2 separate regions of the Homo sapiens genome follow, and region 2 is linked to region 1. Evidence: fine-mapped expression QTL. A gene starts in region 1. The other region holds a variant in brackets. All regions are shown on one strand. Distances are from middle to middle. Region 1 holds the start of COBL (cordon-bleu WH2 repeat protein). Region 2 has its middle 33 kb from the start of COBL.

Region 1 (4,389 bases):
CAACCTATCTCCCTTCAGTAATCTTCTAGAAGAGCGTTTGTAGGCCACAGGGTGAAATCTCGTTAATTCACTGCACCCAGTCTAGCTTGTTTCTATACAACACAAGGAGGAGTGGTAGTTTCAGCAACAGCAACAGCTTCACCACATCAGTTTGTTATCATGTGGGAAGACAGAGGCTTACTGAAAGTTTGATTTTATAATAAACGGTTGCAGAATCAGATGGAAAACAAATTTCCCTCAAGCACACTGCAAACACTGCCTTAATCTCAGGGAACAGAGGAGTAATCTCAGTGAAGAGCCAACAGAATCTGCCTGCCACCAATAATGTACTAAAGCCACAAATTTCACAGCAATATCTAACCTTTATAATTAGCAAGCATACACCTAAATTATATAAAATATTCGAAGACCTAACACCATTTATCTCCTCAGATTTGAACACAAAATTGCTTATTAAACACGTAATTCTTGTCTGAAAAAATATAAGGATATTAACATTTTCTTGATGCTTCTTCACTGAAAGTATTAACAAATGACAAAGTGAGAACAATAGAAGTTAAAAATAATATGTCTACATTTCTTGGACAAAGATGTTCGGACAAGTAAATTAGACACTGGATATGAGTGAGGGAAAGAACTGAATGCATCAGGAATAATTTCATGTTTTCCATAGCAAAAATCCTTAGTTTTACTTTGCAATTCAAATATGAAAGCCAATCAGAGCTCTGGGAAGCCCTGAGAAGGCCAGCCCTCGACTACCTCTTGCCACACAGTACCAGGCTGAAAAGAGTGCCACGCTCTTAGGGTAAGTCCTTTCACTTCTATCATTAGACTCCCTTCAAGGATCTTACAGATACTCTTTGGATACAGTTTTGCCGGCCTTTTAAATGTTCTCTCTGTCTTCATATTTATTTATAAGGTGATAGTGACAAAATAATTCAGTGTCCTTAAATAGGCTCATTTAATAGGCTATGAAAGCCACAGATTTAAAGATACCTCTGTTTCACATTTCCCTGTTATTTTGGGATGCCTATTACCATGAAAAAGGATTTCCCACATTTACTTTCTTTCTGGGGAATTTGTTTGTTCAAAGAGAATTATATAACCACCAGTAAGTGCACTGCAAAAAAAAAAAAAGAGAGAGAGAAAGAAAACTTCTTTTTAACATTCCTCAGCTTCAGGATTATTTGATTTGCTAACCTGGCTCACCTTTTCCTGGCATTAAAGGAAAACTTTAAAATTTTAAAAAGAGCCCGACTGAAAGTCTTTTACACACTTGGGCAACACGCCCGCCTATGGGCACATGGGCAGGGTGAGTCAGTGGGACACAACTGTAACAGAAAAAAAGATTTGTTGTCCCCAAAGCTGCCTCCTTCAAGTCCAGTTGCCATAGCAGAAAGTGGGCCCATTCAGTAAGCAGGTGCAGGGCTCACCCCAACCCTCATTCCATTTGCAAGACTCATACACATTTGCTCCAGGCGAGCGAGCGAGTTCGAAGGTCCCCGGCGCGCCGCGCTGAAAACTACAAAGTCCACCGGGACTGCGCGCTACCCCGCGGCCCAGCCTGCACCGCTGGCCGGGATGAGCACGGCGCACCTGGCTCGGGGTCTGAATAATGAGCAGGGCTGCTCGTCCTGTTTGAGGGAAATTACTCTTTCTGAGAGTCAAATCCTGAATGTGACGTGTAATCCCTGCACGCAAGGTGTGGGGATAGCAAACAGAAACCGGGAGAGGTTTGGGCAAAAGCGGAATCGCGAAGACAGGGATGGGCCGCCAGACTCGCGGGTCCGCTACGGATGTCTGCGCCTCAGGCCTGGCCCCACTAGGACGCCCCTTCCACTGCCAGGGGAGACCCTGGAATAAAGGCAGGGAGGGAGAGCTGCTGCCATGAAACCCTCCGGGCAATCCGAACACCTTCCGAGAACGCGGGGCCCGGGCGGCTGCGAAGCCGGGGAGCCCTCCCCTCCACGCTGCCGGGAGAGCCGATCCTGGGGCTGCCGCCGAGGCCGGGAGAGGGAAGACTTGATGGGAACCGGCCAGGGGCAAGCCCGCAGGGAAGAGGCCGGAGTCAAAGGCCGGGCGTCCCCTCGCTCCCCGCTCCACCCCTACGGCAAACACTTGGGGGGCCTGAGGAAAGCTCGGAGCTGAGTGGGGGCTGTGCTGGCGGGGACCCCCATAAGGACGCCTGCATACAAACCACCCCGCGCGAAAAGTGCGCTCCGGCCCCGGCCCGACACGGTTACCTGGGCAACGACCCGGGTGCCCAAAGTACACAGCACGCACCACCACCCAACACCAGCACCCAACACCAGCACCGCACCACCTGCTCCACCACTACCACCAGCACCCGCTGGGGCGGCAGAGAGGGCGCCCTGCCCGGGAGCGCGCGGTGCGGACGCGGGCGTCCGAGCCCAGGGAAGCCCCCTCTCCACCCCGCCCGACCGCGGGGCCGCTTACCCGGTCGGGGGCTTGGCCGCCGAGGCGCGCGGCGCGTCCATGGTGCCGGGGGCCGGGACGCGGGCGGTGCTCCGGGCCCGCCGAGTCAGGCGCTGGCTACCGCCGCCACCGCTGCCGCCCTCATTCACTTTTTCCGCGCTGACCCATCGTCCTCCCACGCGGGCCGGCGGAGGACAGCGGCGGAGCGCGGCGGACGGAAGGGGCTGGAATCGTCTCTAGCGGGCGGGGGCGCCGGGAGCGCAGGGAGGGGCTGGCGGCGGCGCGGGGCGGGGGCGCCGGGAGCAAGGTGCGCCGCGCCCCCGCCCCGGCTGCTCTGCCGCGCCCACCGGAGCGCCGCCCCCGCCCCGCCCCGCCCCGCCTGCTCAGAGTCCCGACCCGGCCCGCGGCGAGCGTCCGGGGAAGGAATCCTCCGGCACCTGGGCCCTGCACCGACACCCGCGGGTGCGGCAGAGGGCTTCTCCCCGTGCTCCTCCACCCCTGGGGGGAGCGCGACCCTCTCTGGGCGGAGTGGGGGATCCCGGGGCCGGCGCCTCCTGGCGGAGTTGGGGGAGGGGAACCACCTGGAGCCTGGAGGCCGTGCGAGGGCGAGGTGGGCGGACCAGCCCGGGAGGACTGACGTTGGAGGGTGAGAAGTGAGTGTCCGGCACCGCTCTCTGACCTTTATCCGTGCAGCAAATGTCTAGTGCGTAGGGTCGCAAAGTGGGAGTCCCGACCGGGAGCGTCAGGAACACCTGGGAACTTGTTAGAAATGCAGATTTCTGGGGCCCACCAGGTCCCACGGAATCAGAAACAGTGCGGGCTGGAGCGCGGCCTCGCTTTGCTAACAACTCACTCGCTCTAGGTGAATGCTCGCTTAAGTTTGCCAACCTGATTCACTGGGCGCTACTGTGGCACAACCCTGCCACTCCAGTGCGGGCTGGCGGGCAGATATGCAGGTCCTGCCGGCCACGCCGGGGCCCAGAGCAAGTCAGCCAGAGGTCCCTTATCTGCCCAACTTCACCTCCACTCTCTAAGATCTTGGTTGGTATGATGGGCTGACCTATAAAAGTGGCAGTTTCATATGGTTTCAATGACTCGAATAAAAGACCAACAAGAGGCCAGATCGGGCGAGCCTGATAGCGTTGGGGGTGACGCTCCCCTTGCGATCTTGTCATTGGATGAGGTATCCAGAGGCCTGCGCAGCCTTCCTCCCTCTGATCCCCTGCTTTCTCATTAACTGAAGGGGGGGCAGACCAGTCTATATGCAAAATGTGAGTCCTTACTCGTGGCTGGCAGATCTTGGGTGCTCCCTGCTCCCACCTAGAAGGTTTCCTAAGTCCCCAGGTGGCCCTGGGGCTCACTTCCCTGCAGCCCAGCCTCCCATGAGTGGAGCGCTTTCCCGGCTCAGGGCCTCTGGCTGGGATGCTGCTCCACAGTGCTCTTCCTCCTCCTTTTCATCCCGTGGTCTCCCCAAGGAGCCTTTCCTGGCCTCTCTGTCTAAAAGCACCCTGCGGAGCACAGTGGCTTACACCTGTAACCTCAGCACTCAGGGAAGCCAAGGCCGGAGGAGCAGTTGAGCTCAGGAGTCGGAGACCAGCCTGTGCAACCTGGGAGAACTTTCTACAAAATAAAAAAATTAGCGGAGCATGGTGGCACACACCTGTAATCCCAGCTACGGGGCGGGGCGGCGAGTGGGGAGCAGGCTGGACAATGGAGTGAGATCCTGTCTTAAAACACAAAATAAAAGCAGCTCTCACTCAAGCTCCTGACTGCTGCCTTGTCCTAATTTTCTTCTGAGCATTTGTCACTGTATGTGTGTGTGTATGTGTGTATGTGTATATATATATGTGTGTGTGTATATGTGTATGTGTGTATATATGTGTGTGTTTATATTTAAATGTAAGTTTATAAAGAAATGTTTACATGTAATGTGTTATATTTATAGACATGTTT
Region 2 (4,389 bases), 34 kb after region 1:
ATATATTACAGGGACATTTTTCAAGTGATCAAATTGAGGAAACAGGCATGGTTCATTCATTCATCCATCCTTCAGTTGTTTGGAAGTTTATTCATTCAGTCATCCATGTAGTATGCCTACTAAATGTCGGAAAATGTGATTATGGTTCAGCCAATAATACAGACTCCCCAAATTAATGATTTTCTTTCAAAATATTAATCTTAAAATGATTTTTTTTTTGAGGTGGAGTCTCACTCTGTCGCCAAGGCTGGAGTACACTGGCACGATGTCAGCTCACTGCAACTTCCACCTCCTGGCTTCAAGCAATTCTTCTGCCTCAGCCTCCCAAGTAGCTGGGATTATAGGCGCCTGCCACCATGCCCGGCTAATTTTTGTATTTTTAGTAGATACGGGTTTCACCATGTTGGTCAGGCTGGTCTCGAACTCTTGACCTCAAATGATCCACCCACCTCGGCCTCCCAAAGTGCTGGGATTACAGGCATGAACCACTGTGCCCAGCCTTAAAATAATTTTATAATTGGGTGTAACTTCCAGGGTGAAGCTATTACTCAGAGAACTAGCCCCTTAGTGCAGGCCGGGGGTGTGTGCTAAAGGCCCCCATTGGAGCCGCAATTCCCATCTATAAAATAGGAGAACAAAAATGTTGGCCTCATGGACCCATCCTAAGGATTGCATGAATTGTTCATATTGAAGGTTATGTTGGTATATGAAATAATCAGCAATTAAGGCTGGGCGTGGTGGCTGATGCCTATAATCACAGCACTTTGGGAGGCGGAGGCAGGTGGATCACTTGAGGCCAAGCGTTCAAGACCAGCGTGGCCAACATGGTGAAACCCTGTCTCTACTAAAAATACAAAAATTAGCCGGGCGTAGTGGTGGACACCTGTAATCCCAGCTACTTGGGAGGCCGAGGCATGAGAATCGCTTGAACCTAGGAGGCAGAGGTTGCAGTGAGCTGTCATGCCACTGCACTCCAGCCTGGGTGGCAGCACAAGACTCTGTCAGAAAAAAAAAGCCACAAAAAATTTTTAAAACCTTTGTTTTATGCTAAATATATCTGAGACAGATAGTTTGGCTTATTTCTTACAGCCTATGTTAAAGACTCTGAATGTCCAAGATAATTTGAAAATAAGATTATAATAAAAACTTGGTTATAATATTTGTTTTCTTTATACACCTTTAGATGAATTATCTTTCACGTGAATAAATATTCTCTGAGATATTAATAATTGAAAAATTAGATTTTTTACTTTGAAAGCAAAAGATTTAAAAAAATCATGCAAGTGATGGTTGCTGGCCTCCACCTCCTTTCCACAGCTCTGTCCTCAGCTCCTCATAGTATAGGGGAAAGTTTTTTTGTTGTTTGTTTTGTTTTGTTTTTGAGATGGAGTCTCGCTCTGTTGCCTAGGCTAGAGTGCGGAGGTGCGATCTCGGCTCACTGCAAGCTCCACCTCCTGGGTTCACGCCATTCTGCATCAGCCTCCCAAGTAGCTGGGACTACAGGCACCTGCCACCATGCCCAGCTATTTTTTTTTTTTTTTTGTATTTTTAGTAGAGACGGGGTTTCACCGTGTTAGCCAGGATGGTCTCGATTTCCTGACCTTGTGATCCGCCTGCCTCGGCCTCCCAAAGTGCTGGGATTACAGGCGTGAGCCACTGTGCTGGGCCCAGGGGAAGGTTTTATGATCTCAGACCTCGCTCATTCCCAGACCAATCCTGGTTTGGACAACTATTGCCTGTTATGTAACAAGAAATTATATGCTAGGATTGTTACCAGTGGGGTACTTTCCCAATTCTTATCAAATGTAGAGAGTTAAGCAAATCTGGTATTCACATCACTGGTGGTCATATCACTATAAAAGATACTCCATTATGCATTTTCAAATTCCATTTTATTTTTCACTTGTATTTGTAAATGGGCACGTGTTATAAATTCTTTCTCTTTTCCTTTCGGTGGAAGAAAATTTGAGAAGATAACAGGGCATAGGATGTCTGACTTCTCTCATACAAGATGTAGTAATTAAACTCCATTCCTCTTCCTCAGATGCAATTTAGGCACATTTCCAAAGAAAAGAGAAATAGATTTGATTGGATGGAGTAGTTATTAATGAACCAATCAGTTTACATTCATGAAATGTGAAGAAGAGGAAATATTTCCTATTATGCTTCTTGATTCAGCTGTAACTGCTGGGCAACACTTCCTGCTTGGCTTTTCTTTGACCCTAAGTATGTGCATTGAAACACCCAGTGGTCTCCAAGTTGGAGATTCTTAAGTTTAGCCTTACAGCATAATGAGCACATAAGCACTCCCAGTGTCTCTGGATCTGATGTTCCCATGACACACAATACTGTTTGTCCAGTAGCAGGGCTGCTCATATTTCAAGTATGAGCTGTGATAGCACCTTCCAAATAAGGAAAAGGATAGGCAGGCTGTGCGTTGTGAAGGCAGGTGTTGAGTTTCAATCCATAAGGAAGAACTTTTGGGATCCCTGGTGTCAAGTATGCCTTGGCATCCTTCCCTTCCGGAAACTCCAGATACACAGGGCCCATGCAGCCGTTGCATGTTCCATTAGCGAATGTTTTCCTAGCATGGAGAGCCCCGCTTCTGAGCGACATGTGTGGAATGTATACTGAACTCTTGTTTACATTTTTTGTGTTTAAAT[C/A]TTGCTTGCTGTACGTATGGACCATATTGAATTAAAAGAGTATTACATGAACAAATTGAGCTGCAATGGCCTGTAAATTGTGAAAAGGCAAATAGAACTGAAGGGTGTGGACCTTGTTTACTGGCAGAAGCAATGGAGTTTGAGGTCAGAATGGTTTGACACACAGCTTGTAATTTTCAGGAATGGAAACTAAGGCACTTGCTTAAAACTTCTGATGTGATTTTTCTTAACTATAAAGTAGGGATAAACAATAATGAATACCTTATATAATTGTTATGAAGCAGCAAAGTTTTATAGACTATAAGTTGCCAAACTGATCTTAGAAACCATTGTGTGGGGCAAGGCACAGTGGCTCATGTCTGGAATCCCAGCACTTTGGGAGGCCGAGGCAGGCAGATCACAAGGTTAGGAGTTCGAGACCAGCCTGACCAACATGATGAAGCCCCATCTCTACTAAAAATACAAAAATTAGTCTGGCATGGTGGCGCATGCCTGTACTCTCAGCTACTCGGGAGGCTGAGGCAGGAGAATTTCTTGAACCCGCGAGGCGGAGGTTGCAGTGAGCCTAGATCGCACCAATGAACTTCAGCCTGGGTGACACAGCGAGACTCTGTCTCCAAAAAAAAAAAAACAAAGAATCCATTGTATGACAAGACGTGTATTTCCTCACATGTGACTTAACTGACTCCTAAGACAGTTTGAACAGAAAACGCATAAGTAATTGTTCCAAGAAGAGGAGTAGCCGCAACTCTAGTGGTCTCTGTGTAAATCCTAGCTGTACTCTGTGTGAATGCTCGAGTTCTAGGCCTTTTCTCCTTGAAATCATTGATCTCAGGTTGGGAGTAACCTCAAGAATCCATCTTGTCTATGTCCTGCCCTATATGCTGAAATGTTATGGGTTCCATAGCTTTGGTCCAAAAAGGTGAATTGACTTACTCAAAGTCACAAAGCTAATTAGTGTCAGATTAAACCAGAAATTGTGGGCAGTATAAGATGTTGCATTGTGAAGTGCTCCTAAGAACTTGCAAGTGATATCCTGATAGTGTGGCAAGTAAAATCAGCACATAATGTATGAACCTGTGTGTCTACAGAAATCGCCCTGATGGATGGACACGTCTGAATGTACAAAAATCTTGGGCCTATTAACTTCTGTGCAGAGAGGGTTAATAGAAGCAACTAGAGTGCTTTCATAGAGTCTACAAAGCGATGCCACGGGATCAGACTTGGTAAGATCTCTCCAGCTCTGTGCAGAGGAGACAGCATTCCAATCAGCAAGCTCAGCCTCCCCAGGGGAAATGGTGGTTTCAGGCCGCTTCAACTCCATGGGTTTTGCCTTCAGTCTGATCAGCTGCCTCTGATCCCATTTTCTTTTTCTGGTTATAATTTGTTTTCCATATAAATTTTCCAACAGAAGGAAAGACACATCTTCTTGGATATGATTTATATCTCTCTGAATATTGATATATCTCAACATAATTTAAGAAGTTGATATCTGGTTTTTACACTGGCCTCTTGTGAATTTGATTAATGGGAATTAGTTTCCTTAAACAAATAACTGTTGGGCTCACACACACACATGACAACTTCCACTTGAAGGCTGGTGAAAAGATCCTGAATTGAGAGGACTCTAAAATGATAAAGGGGCCACCCACAACTAACCATCCACCTCCTCGCTGGCATCATTCTGTAACATCATCAGTGCTACGTCATCTGATTCCAGTGCAGT

What was found. PIP is the estimated chance that this variant, and not a neighbour inherited with it, causes the effect. A credible set is the group of variants that fine-mapping cannot tell apart.
Region 2: its variant is the best candidate, but not a certain one, in a credible set for the expression of COBL in lung (TOPMed, PIP 0.51).

The regions. Positions count from the first base shown.
Region 1 is chr7:51,314,136-51,318,524 of GRCh38, forward strand. It overlaps COBL (cordon-bleu WH2 repeat protein), which reads right to left and starts at 2,674. Exons shown (of 13, transcript NM_015198.5): 1 at 2,458-2,674. The coding sequence starts at 2,498. It overlaps LOC124901633 (a long non-coding RNA gene), which reads left to right and starts at 2,849. Exons shown (of 2, transcript XR_007060324.1): 1 at 2,849-3,089; 2 at 3,912-4,197. RefSeq lists enhancers at 2,932-3,525, 3,526-4,118.
Region 2 is chr7:51,347,932-51,352,320 of GRCh38, forward strand. No RefSeq gene overlaps it. Among named protein-coding and RNA genes, the nearest start is that of COBL, 33 kb to the left of the region's middle. The variant C/A (reference allele first, on the strand shown) is at 2,664.